6 linked regions of the Homo sapiens genome follow. The protein of the gene in region 3 interacts with the protein of the main gene of each other region in a pairwise test. Each region holds a gene or a part of one and is shown on either strand. Other genes may lie near its edges. The genes, in order: NFE2L2, FMR1, ELK1, MOB4, EMX1 and PLCG2.

The links.
Region 1: the proteins of ELK1 (region 3) and NFE2L2 interact in binary tests that used the Homo sapiens proteins (3 or more experiments, as listed by UniProt).
Region 2: the proteins of ELK1 (region 3) and FMR1 interact in binary tests that used the Homo sapiens proteins (3 or more experiments, as listed by UniProt).
Region 4: the proteins of ELK1 (region 3) and MOB4 interact in a two-hybrid assay, tested with the Homo sapiens proteins (one large-scale study listed by IntAct).
Region 5: the proteins of ELK1 (region 3) and EMX1 interact in a two-hybrid assay, tested with the Homo sapiens proteins (one large-scale study listed by BioGRID and IntAct).
Region 6: the proteins of ELK1 (region 3) and PLCG2 interact in a two-hybrid assay, tested with the Homo sapiens proteins (one large-scale study listed by BioGRID and IntAct).

Annotation. Positions count from the first base shown.
Region 1 is NC_000002.12:177,233,728-177,237,227, forward strand, and holds part of NFE2L2 (nuclear factor erythroid 2-related factor 2), read right to left. Parts: intron 545-3,500; coding exon 278-544; intron 1-277.
Region 2 is NC_000023.11:147,928,919-147,932,418, reverse strand, and holds part of FMR1 (fragile X messenger ribonucleoprotein 1), read right to left. Parts: intron 2,472-3,500; coding exon 2,378-2,471; intron 2,292-2,377; coding exon 2,175-2,291; intron 1-2,174.
Region 3 is NC_000023.11:47,644,064-47,647,563, reverse strand, and holds part of ELK1 (ETS domain-containing protein Elk-1), read left to right. Parts: intron 1-3,500. UniProt on the Homo sapiens protein: Transcription factor that binds to purine-rich DNA sequences. Forms a ternary complex with SRF and the ETS and SRF motifs of the serum response element (SRE) on the promoter region of immediate early genes such as FOS and IER2.
Region 4 is NC_000002.12:197,519,066-197,522,565, reverse strand, and holds part of MOB4 (MOB-like protein phocein), read right to left. Parts: intron 1-3,500.
Region 5 is NC_000002.12:72,924,019-72,927,518, forward strand, and holds part of EMX1 (homeobox protein EMX1), read left to right. Parts: intron 1-290; coding exon 291-475; intron 476-3,500. UniProt on the Homo sapiens protein: Transcription factor, which in cooperation with EMX2, acts to generate the boundary between the roof and archipallium in the developing brain. May function in combinations with OTX1/2 to specify cell fates in the developing central nervous system.
Region 6 is NC_000016.10:81,957,291-81,960,237, reverse strand, and holds part of PLCG2 (1-phosphatidylinositol 4,5-bisphosphate phosphodiesterase gamma-2), read right to left. Parts: intron 2,283-2,947; coding exon 2,240-2,282; 3' UTR 1-2,239. UniProt on the Homo sapiens protein: The production of the second messenger molecules diacylglycerol (DAG) and inositol 1,4,5-trisphosphate (IP3) is mediated by activated phosphatidylinositol-specific phospholipase C enzymes. It is a crucial enzyme in transmembrane signaling.

The sequences.
Region 1 (3,500 bases), on a different chromosome or scaffold from region 3:
GCTACTTGATCCTTACAGGATGTTTCTATACTTTACAAAACTCTTTGGTGTAACTTAAGTCTTCCCAATCCTCACAATAACACTGTTAAGATCAATAGGTTGGGTACTGAACTCAGGTTAGGTACTGAACTCATCAGGAGGCTGAGGTTGGAAAGTAGATTTGACAAGGTTAAGTAAAAGAAAGGCAAAGCTGGAACTCAAATCCAGATATTTTAATTCCTTGCTCAGTGTTTCCTTAAACCTGCCATAACTTTCCCAAGAACTGAGTACTCTGTACCTGGGAGTAGTTGGCAGATCCACTGGTTTCTGACTGGATGTGCTGGGCTGGCTGAATTGGGAGAAATTCACCTGTCTCTTCATCTAGTTGTAACTGAGCGAAAAAGGCTTTCTCTTGCTCCTTTTGGAGTTGTTCTTGTCTTTCCTTTTCAAGTTTTTTCTGTTTTTCCAGCTCATACTCTTTCCGTCGCTGACTGAAGTCAAATACTTCTCGACTTACTCCAAGATCTATATCTTGCCTCCAAAGTATGTCAATCAAATCCATGTCCTATGTTTAAGACAAAAAAAGGAAGGAGAGAGCTCATGTTTTTTAAATGACAGATACCACATAAATTAATTCACATTATGCCACTGTTGATGGTGGGAAGTGGGGAGATTACAAATACAATCTAAATGAGAACACAGATCCAATGTTCTAGAAGAGCACAGTTAATTCCATTCAATGAATCTATTCATTAAAGACAACAAACAACCTACAAACACATAGCCATCCATTCTAATCACTTGGATCATTAATGATAGGGTGATGGTAGAGGTCACTAAAGGGCAAAGTCACAAATGGTTTGAATGAGAAGAAATCCCACCCTTGTTTAATGGAATATAGAAATTAGAGCAAGCACTCTAAGCCACTGGCTTATATAAGAGAAGTGGGGTCTGGAAAACATTACTGAATACATGGAGTTTTCTTTAAACTTTGCTCAGCAAATATCCAGTTTATAGAGGGATAACTCTCAAGTTAAAGTGTCAATCTAGCAGTTGTGAAATATCACCATTCTTTCCATCTTTCCTACACTAGATTATCTTCTCCCCATCACTGCTTGCTACTCTTATCTCTGTGGCTTACCTATATGCCTGTAATCCCAGCACTTTGGGAGGCCAAGGTGGGTGGATCACCTGAGGTCTGGAGTTCGAGATCAGCCTGGCCAACATGGTGAAACCACGTCTCTACTAAAAATACAAAAATCAGCCGGGTGTGGTGGTACGTGCCTGTAATCCCAGCTACTCAGGAGGCTGAGGCAGGAGAATCGGCTTGAACCTGGGAGGCAGAGGTTGCAGTCAGCTGAGATCGCACCACTGCACTCCAGCCTGGGCAACAGAGCAAGACTCCATCTCAAAAAAAAATAAAATAAAAGCAGACAGGGACAGGTGCGGTGGCTCACGCCTACAAGCCCAGCACTTTGGGAGGCTGAGGCAGGTGGATTGCTTGAGCCCAGGAGTTCGCGACCAGCCTGGGCAACATGGAGAGACCCTGTTTCTACCAAAACAAAAACAAACAACAACAACAACAACTGGTGTGGTGGCGCACACCTGTGGTCCCAGCTACTCAGGAGGCTGAGGTAGGAGGATCACTTCAGTCCAGGAGGTCATGGCAGCAGTGAGCTATGATCGTGTCACTGCACTCCAGCCCGGGCAACAAAGTGAGACCCTGTCTCATAAATAAATAAATAAATAAATAAAACTATGGCTCCAGGGAAGGATTAAAGGTATTAAGTTTTAAGACATAGGAAGAATCTTACAAAGAGGGAATGGTTTTGATGAGGAGAGGCTGAGCTTGGTGACTCAGGCCTGTAATCCCAGGAGTTTGGGAGGCCAAGGCAGGAGGATTGCTGGAGCACAGGAGTTACTAGCCTGGGCACCATAGTGACACCTGTTTCTACCCAAAATCAAAACAAATTAGTTGCACGTGGTGATACGAGCCTGTAGTCCCAACTATTAGGGAGACTGAAGTGAGAGGATTGCTTGAGCCCAGGAAGTCAAGGCCATGGTGAGCTGTGATTGTACCACTGCACTCCAGCTTGGGTGACAAGACCCTGTTTCACACACACAAAAAGATACATGGGGAGAGAATTTATATGACTAGGCTAGGCATAGGAACCACATCCAGATTTTCCTAACCAAAAATGTGTCAATAGCAGTTTTTCTGATTTGTAATTTTAGTCTTTGGAAAAATCTAAATAGGTAGGAAATCTAAATCTGTTTCCATTCCACAAATCACCTATAGGGGAAATAATTAATTTGAGAATGGAAAAAAATCAAGATGGGGGAACGGGAGTTGGGACTTGAAGGCCAGTGGGTACAGTGTAGACACGTCACACTTTGCATTTCATTCTGCTGACAGCTGGCAACGCCAGACTTAGAGTTCTATTACTTTCAGCTTCCCAAGGACGCAAATAACATGGTGGTTGTTTCAGTGAGGAGTCAGGCTATTTTTATCCAACAGAGGAGCAGGCCACCCAGCCTGGAGGCAGCGCAGCTAGCTAGATGGCACAGGCCACCTGTGTCCATGATTGAAGGTTGGCGTTGGAATCTTAAATGCTATGAAACCCTGCTCATGGGGCTCATTATTCTAGCCTTGAACAATATATATTGTAAAGCACACAAAGTAGGCATAGTTAAAGTAGCACTTGTAGTTAGGTATACCTCACTAGGACATACCTAATTATCTTTAAGCCAGTATCTATTAAGGGCTTCCTATATGCTATGCACTGTTCTAAGTACTTTACATATAGAAACTATTCCTCAAAACAGCCTTATACAGAGAAAACATTCCTGTTATACAGTATAAGAATACTGAGGTTAAGAAAAAAGATACTACCAGAAAGTGGCTGAACAAAGACACATACCCAGGCAGCTTCAGTCGGGTTCATGCTTTATTAGCCATGAGCCTACACTATTATAAAATGGCATGGCATTTGCTGCAAATAACCTATGCATATCCCTTTATATACTTTAACTCATCCCTGGATTACTTACAATACCTAGTAAAGTGTAAATGCTGTGTAAATAGTTGTTATACTGTATTTTATGTGTGTATTGTTATTTTTTCGGGTTTTTTTTCCACTTTTTTCCTTTTGAAATTTTATTATTTATTTACTCATTTTGAGATAGGGTCTCACTCTGTCACCCAGGCTGGAGTGTGGTGATGCAATCATGGCTCACTGCAGCCTTCACCTGGGCTCAAGTGATCCTCCCACCTCAGCCTCCCAAGTAGCTGGGACTACAGGCACATGCCACCAAGCCCAGCTAATTACTTTTTGTAGAGATGGCGTCTTGCCATTTTGCCCAGGCTGGTCTTGAATTCCCGGGCTCCATTGATTTTCCTGCCTCAGCTTCCCAAAGTGCTAGGATTACAGGCATGAACCACTCCACTGTGCTTGGCCTTTTTCCAAATATTTTTGAACCAATCTGCCATTGGTTGCATCATGGAACCAGAGGCTGCATGG
Region 2 (3,500 bases), about 100 Mb from region 3:
AGAAATGGACGTCTGATGAATACACTTTATCAACTATTACGACAACTGTATTTAGGCCAGCCATGTAAATTATCTTGACCCTGTATATGAGGGGTCCATAAATTATTAATAGTTTTAGGTTAAAACTAACAGGTTTTAGAAAATACCTCTCACAGCCTAAGTACTTTTTAGGTTACTAAAGGTCTATGACATTTTATATGTTTTTGTTAATAGGAAAGAACTTGTTGACATTTTCCAAGGTAACTGCTGAAAACTTATCACAAGGCTGCCTTAGTTAACCAATGACATCAGCAATATAATAACTAAGAAGCAGGTCAAATGTTCCCCAGTAAAAACCAGCTCACTCGGTCTGACAAACTCAATGTTACTTATTTAGGTAAAAAAATGTTTAAATATCATCTTTATAGAAAATTTTATTCGCTTCATTTTTATTAAAAGGTATCAGTATATATTTTCTGGAAACAGTGCCATTTTTTATAACATCATTAGGTACTGTGGTCTAAACATTCCTCTGTTGAAATGACATTAAAATGACACCTCCCTCAAAACCTAAGGAATCAAAAATTGTTGGTACAGTAGTTAAACTGAATAATCAAAAAATGTCAAAAATTAAAAACTTAGTAAGCATCTGAAAGCTAACATGAGACCAGAGTCCGTAAGACCTTGTGATCTGGATCCACAATTATGATGAGCACTTGTAAATATCCAGTGATGACGAAACTAAGTTACACTGACATCCCAAACTTGTGGATAACCACTGTCTTTAAATACCATTATCAAAATTTAGTGTTCAGTTCTAGCATGCCATTAATGAAAACCAAACGTATTAGTGGCTCATGTTGAAAAATGGGAATTTCTTATAGGAACATGTAAATCTCTTTAATATTAGTAGTGAAGAAAGATAGGCATGCATACTAGTTTCTCATTGTTCAACAGACCTGATAATTTGAATGAATGAATACAACTAGCATAAATAATTTAAAAGTGCAATACCCATTTTTTTTAGACTAGAGTAATAAAATCTATAAAATAATTCTAGGACTTTTCAAGAAGTCATGTTTTTTGAGTCCTGGTTCATTAATCTGGTTCGTTCTTTTTCATTGATAATTCACTGATAAATGGTTAGCCAAAAGTATGATAGATCATTTAAGAATAATTCGATGTTTAAGAGGCATATGAGTATATTTTCATAATACTCACAATCAAAGTAAGGAGGCAGCTCTGGGCTAAAAGTTATGAGAGAATCACTGAAGGAACCACAAAATCATGAACACAGGGACATCAAGAAAGAATGAGAGCAAAGACCAATTAAACAGACCTCCATGGCCTTAAGAAAAAACAAAGTGGCAAAAGGAGATTAAACTTTTCCCCTTCTGCTAAGAGTTCAGCATCATACATCAAGTTGACAGGTGGCAAATTTCACAGGGTTTTTATAAGAACACAGTCTTGACTACCTTTTCTCCTAAAATGCAGTTTGGAACTCCTTTTTTTCTTTACTATTTCAAATGTGTGGTGTTTTCCTTCTAATGAATAATGATGACGAACTCTGGAATTTGACAGGAATATAGTAGAGCTGGCACATTCATCTAAGATCCACTTAGTTTCTATAGTAATGGATGGACGTACTTGATAGTTATCAATGAAAACAAATATATGGTGATGAAAATTATTGGAGGATTAATAAAAGTAGATAAAATGCACCTTAAGAGACAAAATAGTAAGTTAGGGAAATAGCCTCTGGCGGGAATCTGAAGACAGGAGTTTTAAAGAATGACAACCAATTAGAATGAAGAAGTTCTATACCCTTTTAAACAAAGATAAACATACATAATGAGAGGAATATGATTAGATATTTAAATATTCTCTAGTATTTTTAATGACAACATGTTATATGGAAGAAGCATTGCCGCATTTTATTAGCAACTTTGATAAACTTCTAGTAAAAGTGAAAGTACCAGAAGTCCCTTAATATACATAAGCTGCTGTTTAATTTTGAAACCTCAGGCATGGAAACTTTAGTATGATTATGCTTTGTACAATTTTCCAACTATAGAACCTAAGGAATTGTTAAGAAGCAGTAAATAAATGACAAGCTCCCCATATTCAAGTTGTGGAATGATACAGTTAATCGTTCCTAGGTACCCTTACAAGCAGTGCTAGGGAAAGTGACATACCTCCAGCTGCTTACTAGCTTCTTCATTTCTCATTATCAGAGACAACTTAGTGCGCAGACTCCGAAAGTGCATGTCAATCAGCATATGTGCTCGCTTTGAGGTGACTTCATTGATGGACTAAATGATTTAAATTAACAACATTATTATCAAGGCAATTGCCCCAGATGAATTAAACTAAAAATAAACAACTCAAAAATGCTCACCAAAATGACAAGCTGATAATTTTCTGGATCATAAGTTACAGAAAAGGCACCAACTGCCTTTTTAAAATCCTTATGTGCCGCCTCTTTGGCACACCTAGAAATTTAAAAAAAAAAATTAAGATGAATAATTACCAACTACTGACATAAATAAATGCAGGCAGATTTACACATACAAGAATCATGGATTCATATTAAATTTGATTTATGCAAAATATGCTATATCCATTTAGAAGCTTAGCTCCTTTTCTGTACATTTCTGAAATACAGCTTAGATTACCAAAAGAGACATATTCAGGGGAACCACTCTACACTACAGGTTTCCTGATTTCAGTTACATACAAGTCAGTAGTTTTCTTAAGTCAACTATTGAAAACTTTTGGAGATAGCTACCTACAGGGTATCTGATTTCTTTCTTCTTCTCTTGTTGCAGGCCTTTTTTTTTCCTTTTTTTTTAATTTTTAGTTTTGTGGGTACATAGTAGGTATATATATTTATGGGGCATATGAGATGTTTTGATACAGGCATGCAATATGAAATAAGCACATCACGGAGAATGGGGTAAGAAACTGCTAAACGATTTGAGGGAGAGAAGGAAACGTACATGAACCAGAAGGCACAAAAATTTACACACATACACAATCTCTAGAAAAGGGAGGATTTCTATGTATTCTGAACTGCAATTTAATGTTCAACAACATGTCCAAATCAAACGTACTGTATTCACTTAATAAAATCTGTAAAAAATAAAAATGCGTCTCTTCTATAGTCTTTAAGCATTATTCCAGATCAAGGATTGTAAGATGAGATGACTTTTTAAAGCTTCTTTGGCTCTACTTATTACACATTTATCTGAAAACATTTTAGGTAAAAGAGAAAAAAACGGAGAAATCGTTTATAGTTTGTGACTTATGACAGAATTATCACATTTGTTTGATCAGTTTTTAAATCTTAGAATGAACAAAGTTAGTTTAGAAAACAAATGTACATTATGTACATCAGACACGTGTATAGCCAAGTAAGTTTAAACAAGCGCAAGGCTGCCTTGATTCTATAAGTAGGAAAAGTTAAATAAGTTTTTTCTCCATTGCTCTTGCAAACCAAACCATTTTTGCCAAAGTCCACC
Region 3 (3,500 bases):
TTGTGAGTACCAGGCACTCTTCTAGGTGCTGGAATATGGCAAGGAACGAAACAGGGCGAAATATTTGTGCTTGTGGAGCTGACATTTATTAAAAGTTGGGGAGGCTGGGCACGGTGGCTAACACCAGTAATCCTAGCACTTTGGGAGGCTGAGGTGGGTGGATTGCCTGAGCTCAGGAGTTCAAGACCAGCCTGGGCATCACGGTGAAACCCCATCTCTACTAAAATACAAAAAAATTAGCTGGGTGTGGCGGCGTGCGCCTGTAATCCCAGTTACTTGGGAGGCTGAGGCAGGAGAATTGCTTGAACCCAGGAGGCGGAGGTTGCAGTGAGCCAAGATTGCACCATGCACTCCAGCATGGGTGACAGAGCGAGACTCTGTCTCAAAAAAAAAAAAAAAAAAACCCAAGCTGGGGAGACAGACTATGTGAACAAAATAAATAAGTAAAATTAGCATAATAGACAAATGCTGAGAAGAAATAATGAAATAGGGCAGGTAGGAATCGAGTATTGGGGGTGGTTGAAATCTTAGGCATAGGGAAGGTGACTCTTGAATTAGGGCCTCACGGTAGAGACGGAGAGAGCCTTAATGTCTACGGGAAGAGCATACCAGGCAGAAGGAAGTGCCAGTTCAGAGGCCCTGAGGTGGGATGGTGCCTGCCATGTTCAAGGAACATCAAGGCGGCCAGTGTGGCTGGAGCAGAGTGCGGGGAAGGGTAGAAGGTGAGGTCACACAGGTGATGGGAGCCAGATAGTGCAGGTGATACATAGGATAGGATTGCAGGGGCAGGGGGAGAAGGATGACACACTAGCTAATAGCTAATATCTGTGGAGTATCTGCCACACATCAGAGGCACTTTTCTGTTCAAATACCAACCCCCAAAGGATGTTTACCACACGGTGGTGCCTGGAATGCACTACAAAAAGATACATGTGTCAAAGATATTTCTAAGAATGCCAGTTTATATATGAATAAGGATTTTCCTCCTTTTCAAAAGGATATGTTCACAAAACTGAGGTATGTAATATGCTCTATGGAGGCACAGGTATAAAAGCTGTTTCTAAGAGTGCTAGTTGTATATGTGAATAAGGACTGTGTTGTTGCATTGAAAGAATGTGTTCACAAAACTGTGGTGTATAGCTGGGCACAGAGGCTGAGGTGGGAGGATCACTTGAGCCCAGGAGTTCCAGGCCAGCCTGTGCAACATAGTGAGATCCCCGTCTCCGAAAAAAAACCCAAAAAATAACCACTGTGGTGTGCATAATACACTCTCCTAAAGGCACAGGCATAAAAGATGTTTCTAAGAGTGATTTGATTTTCTGGCACCTGGGTAGTGTTATTTCAGTAAATATTCATTGTTAAACACTATGGTGCTTGGAATATACTATACAAAGGCACATGTATAAAAAAGAAGTTCCTAACAATGCTACTTGTAAAAACAAAAAAAAAAGTCAACCCCTCAAGTCTTTTACAGAAGTATTTTACAGAATTGACACAGTTAATCCTCACAGAAGCCTTGGAGGGTAGGTGTACTTTTGAGAATATTTGACTTTGAGAGTAAAATATCCCCATTTTACAGATGAGGAAACAAGCAAAGAGAGGCTGAGTAACTTGCTCAGGGTAACCTTGAGCCAGAATAGCCAGAACAGGGGCAGAGGAACATAAGGCTGAAGACTCAGAAAGAAGAACAGATTTGCAAGGGCAGGCAGGTTATTTGGCACCTTTGATCACGCAGAGGAAGAATGAATTCTTCCTGGAATGCGATGATTGTGTAATTGAGTCCATGAAGTGAGGGAAGAGCTCTCCCTGCGGGGAGAGCAGCCCGTGCTTACCCTCAGAGGTTGGAACTGTCTCGGGAACGGTAGATAGTTCAGGGTGGCTGCCTCAGAGCCTTTGTACACGCCGTTCGCTCCGCCTGAAGGCCCTCCCCCACAGAGGGCAGCCTGGCTTGCTACCTCCCCTCCTTCAGGCCAGGTGTCACTTCCTTGGGGAAGAACTCCTTGTACACCCTGTGTAAAAACAGCATTCCTGTCACTCTCTAGGATCTTACCCTTCTCTGTTTCTCTTCATGGAGAACTGGTGGTGTAAGGCGATTGCTCACTAGAGCCAAACCACTTAGGTTTTGAATTCCGGCTCTGCCAACTTCCAGCTGTGTGACTTGGGGCAGGTTACTTCTCTGTACCTCCATTGCCTCATGTGGAAAATGGGGGAAATGATAATCCCCACCCTTTAACGGTGGTTTGAGGATTCAATGAGTTAAATGATTCAAAGAGTGTGCAGCCCACGGTAAGGATCGTATGCCTGGCTTGCATTTTTAAATTATTAAAATGTATTCATAGCATACCCGTAGATGTCTGACAGGCCTCTGAAACTGACCATCTCCAAAACTGGTGTGACCCCCCTCAAAACTTACTCTCCTGCAAGGCTCCCACCTCAGCTGACCACAATGCTGTCTTTGTGGGTGATTAGGCCACAAACCTAGACTCACCCTGGACCCTTCTCTCACCTCCCCCGGGCATGCTATCTGTCAGCAAGTCCTATTCTGTGTTCAGGCTTTCTCCAGACCCCAGCTACTTCTCGCCAGCCCCACTGCTACCACCATCATCTACCGCAGTGGCTTCTTCAGCCCCAACAGTCTGTTCTTCTCACAACCGCCAGGGGGATCCTGTTGAAATCTCAGTCACAGCCTGTCATCCCTCTGTTCACAACCCTCTTGTGGCTCCTGTCTCACTCAACATCCTGACAGCACCCGAAAAAGCCTGGCTCAGTCTGGCCCCCGTCACTCTGTTCTCCTCTCCCGCTGCCTCCCTCCTCTCCCCCGAACCCATGTCAGCCTCCTCTCCCCATGTCACCTGCCAGGCACTCTCCAGCCTTGGGCCCTTCACACCGGCTGCCGCTTCCACCTGGCTTGCTGCTCTCAGATACTCACGAGCTCAGTTCCTTCACCTCCTTTTGGTCTCTGCCCAGTTGTCCCCTCCTTGGCGACTACTCTCCCCTGACTCTCCATGTAAAAGTAACAGCTCTCCCCTGCTTGATTTTTTTCCCATAACCCTTACCACCATCTGACGCACTCTTGTACATGTTTGCCTTTTTTCTCATCTGCCTTTCCTGCTAAGATGTGAGCTCCTCTGGAGCAGGGATTGTTGTCTGTTGCGTTCTCGACTGTATCCGCAGCACCTGGCCCACAGTATGCACTCACCAAATGCTTGCTAAGTGAAGGAGATGGAAAGAAGTAAACATATCTAAGCAAGGCAGATTACTAGAACTCTTATGAGGGGTCAAGTGGGAGAAATAACAAAATACAAAGCCCTGTGTGCTGTTGAAGCTGGAAGCCCACCGTCACCTTTCACTCAGCTGATAGGTTCTGTTGCAGCTGAAAGAAGAACTGGTAAAATTGCCTGTCTTTGCCACCAGGAGTCACTCTGAACTCTTTGGACTTCTGAAACAAGCCTGCCTGCAAAACAAATTCAGTGAGGTCTCTGGTGACAGGACTCTCTAAT
Region 4 (3,500 bases), on a different chromosome or scaffold from region 3:
TGAGGTCAGGAGTTCGAGACCAGCCTGGCCAACATGATGAAACCCCGTCTCTACTAAAAATACAAAAAATAGCCGGGCATGGTGGCGTGCGCCTGTAATCCCAGCTACTCAGGAGGCTGAGGCAGGAGAATTGCTTGAACCCAGGAGGCGGAAGCTGTGGTGACTCAAGATCACGCCACTGCACTCCAGCCTGGGTGACAGAGCAAGACTCCATCTCAAAAAAAAAAAAAAAAAAAAAAAAAGGTAATCACCCATGGGTACAAAAAAAATAGAAAGAATGAATAAGACCTAGTATTTGCTAGCACAATAGGGTGACTATAGTAAAAACCAATTTAATTGTACATTTAAAAAAAACTAAAAGAATCTAATTTTTTGCAACATAAAGGACAAATGTGTTGCAGGAAGTCAGGGACCCCAAACTGAGGGACCGGCTGAAACCACGGCAGAAGAATGTGGATTGTGAAGATTTCATGGACATTTATTAGTTCTCCAAATTAATACTTTTATAATTTCCTATGCCTGTCTTTACTGCAGTCTCTAAACACAAATTGTGAAGATTTCATGGACACTTATCACTTCCCCAATCAATACCTTGTGATTTCCTAGGCCTGTCTTTAATCTCTTAATCCTGTCAGCTGAGGAGGAGGTATGTCACCTCAGGACCCTGTGATAATTGTGTTAACTGCACAAACTGTAGAGCATGTGTGTTTGAACAATATGAAATCTGGGCACCTTGGAAAAAGAACAGGATAACAGCAATTGTTCAGGGAATAAGAGAGATAACCTTAAACTCTGACCACTGGTGAGCCGGGCGGAACAGAGCCATATTTCTCTTCTTTCAAAAGCAAATGGGAGAAATATCGCTGAATTCTTTTTCTCAGCAAGGAACATCCCTGGGAAAGAGAATACACGCCTGGGGGTGGGTCTATAGACGGCCCCCTTGGGTATGGCCGTCTTCTATGGTCGAAACTGTAGGGGTGAAATAAACCCCAGTCTCCCATAGTGCTCCCAGGCTTATTAGGAAGAGGAAATTCCCACCTAATAAATTTTGGTCAGACCGGTTGCTCTCAAAACCCTGTCTCCTGATAAGATGTTATCAATGACAATGGTGCCCGAAACTTCATTAGCAATTTTAATTTTGCTCTGGTCCTGTGGTCCTGTGATCTCGCCCTGCCTCCATTTCCCTTGTGATATTCTATTACCTTGTGAAGTACGTGATCTTTGTGACCCACACCCTATTTGTACACTCCCTCCCCTTTTGAAAGTCCCTAATAAAAACTTGCCGGTTTTGCAGCTTGTGGGGCATCACGGTACCCACCGACATGTGATGTCTCCCCCGGACGCCCAACTTTAAAATTTCTCTCTTTTGTACTCTGTCCCTTCATTTCTCAAACTGGCTGATGCTTAGGGAAAATAGAAAAGAACCTACGTGACTATCGGGGCAGGTTCCCCGATACAAATGTTTATGGTGATGGATACCCCATTTACCCCCCTGATGTGATTATTATACACTGCATGCTTGTATCAAAATATCTCATGTAACCTACAAATATATACACCTACTATATACCCACAAAAATTTTAAAAAGAGAAGGAAACATCAAATAAACCAGCTTTCTGTTAAAGGGAATATTTTTATTTCTTCTTCTTTTTTTTTTTTTTTTTTTTTTTTAAGAGACGAGGTCTCACTTTGTTGGCCAGGTTGGTCTCAAACTCCTGGTCACAAACAATCCTCCAGCCTCAGCCTCCCAAAGTGCTGGCATTACAAGCATGAGCCACCATGCCCAGCTTAAGGGGGATATTTTTATAGAGCATCTTGCCCTGGTTCTGGAATTCTCTGTAGATAATACAGTTAACAGATATTCCCCTAAGTGATTAAGAACCTTTCCATTTGACTGATTTTTCAGAAAAGTTTACCTATGTAACCTCAGTGGGTAGCACAATGCCTGACACATCTTTGAAGCTCAAATGTCTCTGAGGTAAAACTTGGTGGGGAGGAGGTAAGAGTAAACCAATAATCTATAAACCTGTATATAAACCTGTAAAAACAATCAACAAAGATTAAGTCTTCAAAACCTTGAGCAAAAAAAGCAAATTAGAAGTAAACACAGTGTATATAAAATGAATAAAGTTTAGGCCGGGCGCGGTGGCTCACGCTCAGCACTTTGGGAGGCCGAGGCAGGCGGATCATGAGGTCAGCAGATCGAGACCATCCTGGCTAACACGGTGAAACCCCATCTCTATGAAAAAATACAAAAAATTAGCCAGGCGTGGTGGTGGGCGCAAACCCAGGAAGCGGAGTTTGCAGTGAGCCGAGAGTGCAGCACTGCACTCCAGCCTGGGAGACAGAGCGAGATTCTGTCTCAAAAAAAAAAAAAAAAGTTTAAGTGCAAGGCATACTTATGGATATAATGCATATATAGTAAAAGTATACAGAAAAGAAAAGGAATGATAGGGTAGAAGACAGAGAATGTCTTCCATAAGGATTCAACTATAGTAGCAATGTCCCCGTTTGGACAGTAGGTAATGAGTACACCTTTTTAAGTGTCTTAAACATTTCATCTTTTTTGAAATAGCTGGCCTATCTGGATGAAAATGAACTAATTTTATTAAAGGAAAATATCAAGAAATAAAACAATCTTCTAGAAATGGTTCCAGGATTCCTTTTCTTAGACATTATCTATTAAAGAGCAATTCTAAAATTTTTCCTATATGATCTAAAGTTTCTACCAATACTCTGTCTATTCTTTCCTTTTTAAAAAAACTAAGGAAGTTTACAGAATGTTGTTTTTAAAATATTAGAAAACACATGTACAGTTGGCCCTCCATATCTGCAGGTTTAATCTGCAGATTCAATCAACCAGGAATTGAAAATATTCATTTCAGGGGAGAAAAAAAATACAGAAAATGTTATATTGTTGCTGACATGTACTATGTACCTAGTTAGGTCTAAGATAGTTGCGTATGTACTAAACATGTACCGGCTTTCTTTTTGGTCATTATTCCCTAAATACAGTATAACAACTATTTACAGAACACGCATTGCATTAGGTATTATTAAGTAATCTAGAGTTGATTTAAACTATATAACAGAATGTGCATAGGTTATATGCAAACACTATGCCATTTTACTTAAGAAACTTAAGCATCCTCAGATTTTGGTATGGGGTGGGGGTACGGAGTTATCCTGGAGCCAATCCCCAGAGGACACCAATGATGACTATATATAGAAAAGATGTTGAGAATGAAATGTTTCGCCTTCTCATAACTGTGACATATTTTAGATGCCTATGAGAGACACCAAAAATTCAGCTTAATAAAGATTCTCATCTAATTCAACCAACAAACATTTATTGAAAACCAACTATGAAGCCCAGCGTGGTGGCTTGCGCCTGTAATCCCAGCACTTTGGGAGGCTGAGGCGGGAAGATCACTTGAGGTCAGGAGTTCGAGACCAACCTGGCTAACACGCTGAAACCCCATCTCTACTAAAAATACAA
Region 5 (3,500 bases), on a different chromosome or scaffold from region 3:
CGGCCTGCCCCATCTCTTGGCTTAACAGAGGGATCTGGAGAGCTGTTATTCCCCGCGTTCCCCCGCGGAGTGGCTCTCGAGTGCGGGGAGGTGTTGCGGAGGGGAGTGGACTTAGGGAAGGGGCGGCAAAAGGGCAAAGGGAGAAATGGCGTGTGTGTGCGTGTCAAGGAATGGAGAGGGCAGGGCGCTTGGGAGCAGGGCGCGAGGCCAGGCTCTGTTGGGCCCCGGCTCACGGCGCCCCTTCTCTCTGTCTGTACCTGCGTGTGTTGCCGTCGGCGGCGGGGCCGCAGCCAGCGACGTGCCCCAGGACGGGCTGCTTCTGCACGGCCCCTTCGCACGCAAGCCCAAGCGGATCCGCACGGCCTTCTCGCCCTCGCAGCTGCTGCGGCTGGAGCGCGCCTTCGAGAAGAACCACTACGTGGTGGGCGCCGAGCGGAAGCAGCTGGCCGGCAGTCTCAGCCTCTCCGAGACGCAGGTAATCACCCCCGGTCGCGGCCTGCCCTGCGCCCGGAGCCCGGGTGGAGGTGAGGGTGCGCGGGTGCAGGAGAGGCCCTGAGCCCGCCCCAGCCCAGCCCTGCTGGGTTCCAAAAGGCCCCCATTCCCCGCGGCGCTGCGGTCAAGCCCGTCTTTAGAGCCTCTTCCTCGAGACTGCGTGCAGCCTGCTGAGCCCGCAGGACTTTTGTCAAGCGCTAAAGACCTAGCAGGAGGCAGAGTAAATGCAAACTGTATCCCGAGCCCGGCTCCCAAAGCTCCTCACGGGGGGACCAGGTTCCCTGGAGGAAGCGGGTCGCCTCGGGAGCGGGCAGCGCAGGCAGCACCGAGGCCACTGGAGCTGGCTCCAGCCCTGGCATTCCTGCAGCCCTTTTCCCGCCACTGTGTCGGGGCGCTCATAGTCCTGCGGGGAGCCGGTCCGCACTGGCTTTGCTGCTGTTCCTGGGCAAAACTGGCGGGGCCTTGGCTGCCCACCAGCCAGGAGCGTCTGGGGAGAAAGCCCAGGTGTCCTCAGACTACCAACAGAGGGGCTTAACCAGGGAGGGGCCAGCCCCTGCTTGGGGCCCGAGGGTTGCTCTGATCCGGCCCAGGCCGGCTGATAGGGCTGTGGAAGCCACGGTGTGCGCGCGCAGAGCATCTGAGTGGCCTGGGCCTGGTGGGAAATAGACCCCGGGTACTCAGGTGCTTCTCTGAATCACTGGAAAGGCTGTCGAATGGGAGAAGGAATAAACTCCAACGGCGCCTGGGCTTGAACTGAGTGAAATTAACAATTACCGTGTAGTGTTTTTGTAACTGATCGTTAATTTAAGGGAAAAAATTAAAGAATTAGATGAAAGTTATAGGGAGGTGGATTTGGGTTCATTGTAAGTAGACTTTGCCATAAATAAATGCTGCCTGGGATCACTGCATAAGCTCTTGGTCCACCCAGGTCCGACGTGTTGGAGTGGGGCTCAGCGACCCTCAGCCTAGCTGCTGCCCTGGAGGTGGATTTCAGTCTCTGCGTGCCGGCCGGCTCCCAGAGTTGCGAGAGGCCGGCTCCGCGGTCTCCCAGCTACCTCCCGGCTGACTTTTCACCTTCCGCTCCCCTTTCCTCCTAGTCTCGACCCTACTACACCACCGTCCCCTCCCAAGTCCCGGGCAGTGAGAAGATGCCCGGCATGGGGGGCAGCCGGAGCCTCCCTTTAGCAGCCAGAGTAGGAAGGGGGCTTAGTGAGGGAGCCCAGACCCAAACTTCATCCGCAGCTTTCTTCGGCGGACCTTACCCTCTCCTCCTTCAGTGGCATTTTGGCATCTATTGTCGTCATATCTGTCTGCTGCCCCACTTAATCTACAAATCGCTCACGGGTCGGAGGCAGGACCCGTGCGTTTTCAGATGTACTAGCTGGGCTGTTCTAACTGCAGGGAAAAAGCTTACAAAACAAGAGTTAATTTTAAAAACGTTTCAAAGAAAGATGTGTTTTTAAAAATAAGTTAATAAAATAACACTCCCTTTTCCCTCCTGGCAGTGTTTTAAAATTATTGTTTGAAACAAGGTGTCAGTTTAAGAATGGTGTTTATAATTAACTTCATTTAAACAGTAATATTTATTAAATTTTAATTGCAGAACTGTAAGAAAACAAAAATGGTTTTTAATCCTACCACCCACAGATTAACACTTGTTGAAATAATGTCATTGTTTTTAAACTTTCAATTTTTTAGCTCAGTGAGAGCATTTTTAATTAACTCTCTTTCAAACTGAACCTAGCTGCCTGTCAATATTTGCTCCTAACAATGCCAGTTAGTAAACGGACTGATTGTTTCTTTCATTTTTATTATGAGACATTTCAAACATATATTTAAAACAAAACCAGATAGAATAACATAAACGTATCCTGCTTCATTAACTATCAAAACTCAGGGCTAATCTTCTTCCCGTCTGTAAATGAGCTGCTTTTTGCATATGGTACAACAAAAAGAATGAGGGGAGGTTTGAGCCTGGGGAACCTGCCGTGGCAGCCTGTCCTTCCAGGTGAAGACCCTGAGATGGAGAGATGGTTTGGACAGAGCTTCCCAGGTGGGCAAACACGATTTTAAATACCTGCCTCCCTGCTAACTTACTGTGTAACCCTGGGCAAGTCACTTAACCTCTCTGAGCTCTGGTTTCCTCATTGAGAAAATAGTTGTTTAATGATTAAAGGTACCTCATATGAGCTCAAATAATATTAATCCCCATCCCTAGTCCCTTCCCTTTAAGGTAGTATGTCAGATTAGTAGCATAAGAAGATCCAAACCTGTGTGTCCTCTTAGTCCAGCGTTCTTCCTCCCTTATGCAGTTTCCGTCATCAACATTGCCTTTCTGTTGCCCTCATAACTTATCATACGGAGCCAGGCTATATAATTAGCTACTTCTCTATCCGCCTCTTGGTACTTACCAGGCAAGCTTACCTGTCATTTCCAGCTATCAGCTATTTGTCAAGCATCAGTCACCCCCAACAGCCCCCCTGCCATGCATTTCTACTGTTAATATCTGTATCTGTCTCCAGAGCTCTCTAATCTGTCCCACCCCGTAGCTGTTTTACATCTAGCCATATACTTCTGTCTGCTCTCATTAAACTGCCTCCCCAAAACTGGCTAATTTATATTTCCGATTTTCTATTAGTTATATGTTCTTCCTAACAATAAGAACTATTTACCCATTTGTTCATTATCTTTGTCATCTATTTTACCTTCTGTGTTTCCACCATTCATCTCAAACTTCATCTCCATAGAGCTATTTCGCAACTGACAAACAGTATATTCATATGTCTGGTAATGGTTATCTATTATTGGCTCTGGCTTTGTCTTCTCTCTGGGTCTGGGCCTCAGTTTCTGTATCTGTGAGATTGAATGACACAAATTCCAGGGTTTTTTCTAGTGCTGAGTTTCTGTGACTCCTCTACATTCTACTTCTCTGTGTTTCTGTATACTACCTCCTCCACATTCTCAGAGCTCACCACACAACCCCTGCCTATCATGATATGCATCAAACT
Region 6 (2,947 bases), on a different chromosome or scaffold from region 3:
CTTTCCTGAGAGAATCAGTCCCTAACACCACCAAGAACCAGATTAACGTGTTACTCTGTCAAGGACAGGAGGAAAGAACCGAAGAAAGTACTCTCTCATGGTGGATTCCGGTTGTAGCACCAGGAGAAGGAGACAGTTTTAGGCAGAGGGTTCTTCCCAGCACCATTTATGTCATAATCCCCTGACTTCTCTTTGGCCACGCATGGATTTTACACAGCAGCAGCTGGAGAGAGGCTTAGCTTCTGCTTCCTATGCCGCCATATGTCAGGTTCTTTGATATGGTAGCAAAAAACCCATTTGGGCAGAAAGGGGATGCAGGCCTTAGCACTGTGGCTTTAAAGTAGAATGAAGTGAGGAGCTGAAAGGAGGTAATGACAGCAACACCTGAGCTCTGCTGTGTGGAAGTCCTAACAGAGCTGAGAGGGGTTGGGGGAGATGCCAGGTGCAATAAATAGGTTCTGGTGGCTACCTGGCCAAAGGCTAATGGGGCCCTGGCTACAGAGTGCCTGCAGCACTCATCCCAGTGCCTTTCTCACCTAGCCTTTCTTGAAAGTTGCTTTGAACATCTGCCACTAAGAGGAATGTTCTTTCTTCAGTTGCTGACTGCCAAATAAAATAGCAGCTCCCAGTTGGAGGAGTAACTGGAGTGATAGCACCAGATAACAGCCCTTCCTTGGCCAGACTGCTGTTCCCTGTGTTCCTGGCTTCAAGCGAGGTAAATGGCTTTCTTTTAGGAGCTTGTGGATGGAGATGATTGATGAGACCCACAGCTTTTTGTTTAAACATCCACACCCCCAAATCTTGGCACTGTATTTGGCATGTGGAGGTGATCAGTAAGTTTTTGTAGAGTGAAGGGACCAGAAGGATCTTCTGGTCAGAGCCTGATTTGTTCTGCCCTGCTTTTCAGCAGTACATGCATACTAAGCCCAGCATTTCGGGTAACAAGAGGAGGGTCAGATGGGTTTCTAGGGGCCAGTTCCATCCACATCAAACATCAGGCTTACTGCTGGTTTGTTCTTCCCCACCACAGCCATCGTTTTTCACAGTTACACTCCTTTTCCCATCAGCTGTAAATTCACTCATTGAGAAGTTGTGACTCTACCAACCACCTCCCTTCCCAACCCAGCACTCTCCTCTCCTTTAAAAAGCCATATTACATTATTGGTATGTATTAACAACTTAAGATGCAGAGGTGTAAAGCCCTGGCCAGCCGCACATACTGTCATGAACTAGGTAGATCTGCCCCAAGGGAGATGGCTGCATTTGAAATTTTCTGTAACACCCTAATGCTTAGCCCATTAAAGCTCAGCTTGCTGCTCCAGAAGACTGGGTAACCCAGAGACATTTCGCCATCAACCTAACTTTTGTCTACCTCTTTCAAGCAGCAGTTGACCTCTTGCCTGTGGAGAGCTGTGGACCAAGGGCCATTCCAGCAGCCTCCCAGCCAGTTCAGTAGGGCCATGAGGGACTAGTGGGGCCAGAGCCTCCCAGCAGCTGGCAGAGCCAGGGGCAAGTGAGAACCTGCCCCTGCAGCACGGCTCTGGTCTCTCTGATGGGCTTTTTAAAACAAAGAGGCCCCAAGATTCCTACCCTCCATCCCAGTAACTCTAGTCACAAAACAAGCTGTCACCATTAATTAGAAATTGTCTTAATGAACAGATCCCATCACTCAGCCATTTTCTTGTGGACTGCAGCAGGCAGCCGGTGGTAGTTAAAGTACATTGAACTGAGCAGGCTGCCTGTGGGTAGGGCTTCTCTTTGGGCCCTTATGGAATCATTTGCCTTTGAGTTAAAATCCTTTTCAGAATCTCATGAATAGTTTCTTACATTTCCAGCTCATCCTCCATGGACATCAGTTACCTGGATCATTAGAGGTAGAATCTTCTTGGCCAGAAAAGAAATCCTGTTCACTGCACAGGTCGTGCAACAGAAGGCTTAATTGATCAAGGTTTTCATTGCTTTTATTCAATGAGGTTTGGAACATGAGAGGCCAAAAATGAGGAGCACATTTTGGGGAATCCTCTATAAAGAATATAAGTTAAGAAAGTTGTCCAAGATGAAAATAATAGGAAATTACCCCAACTCATGCCAGTTGGGTCTTAAGAAATGTCCTTGATGGCAGGCTTGAAGAAAAGATGTCACAGATTAGCGTCTTCCCAGAGTGTGAATAGGGCACGTTCTCCTACATGCAAACACACATGCGCACACACACAATACCCTTACACACATACCCCAGCTTCTATGAGTAAAACTTGCTGTTGCTGACTCTCTTCTCTCTTAACCTGAAATAAAACAGATTTCACCATCAGCAGTGGGCCATGAGAAATGGGCTGCGTGCTGAACTCTGTAACATTTCTCTTTCTGTACATTTGCCAGTCATTCATAGCTGGATGGTATAGGGCTGAGTGTCAGAGAGGCAGACTCCAAGTTCCTGGTAAGACGTTGAGACTCAGAGAGGTTAAATCTCCTCAATGGTAAAACAGAGTAAGAGCTACTCTGCAGGCTGACATGAAGATTCAATGAGAATAATGTGAGTAAGGGAGGCAGCACAGTTTCTCGTTGGTGGCTACTATTAGGATTTTTGTCTGGATGATTCTTTCTTAGAAGATTTAGACATATTATGAAACACTTGGCAACCCCGGCCGCCCCGCACCCCATTACATGCCTGTAGCACAACCACAAGCATCCCTGTTGGGGGATCTTGACCCAGTCTAGAGCCGCTGGACTAGCCCATTCTTGGAAACACAATAAGTACTCCTTAAAAGTCAGTGGTCATCATTTATTTTCGCTATTAAATTGAAGTGTCCTTCTAGAGGAAACAGTTCTACTTAGGGGAAGTGGCAAGCGCCTAAGGTATTACTGTAGGTTAATTTCTAGAACAAAGAGAACTAGAGTCAAGGGTGCCAAAGGATTTTTTGTTTGTTTGTTTGTTTGTTTGTTTGACAGA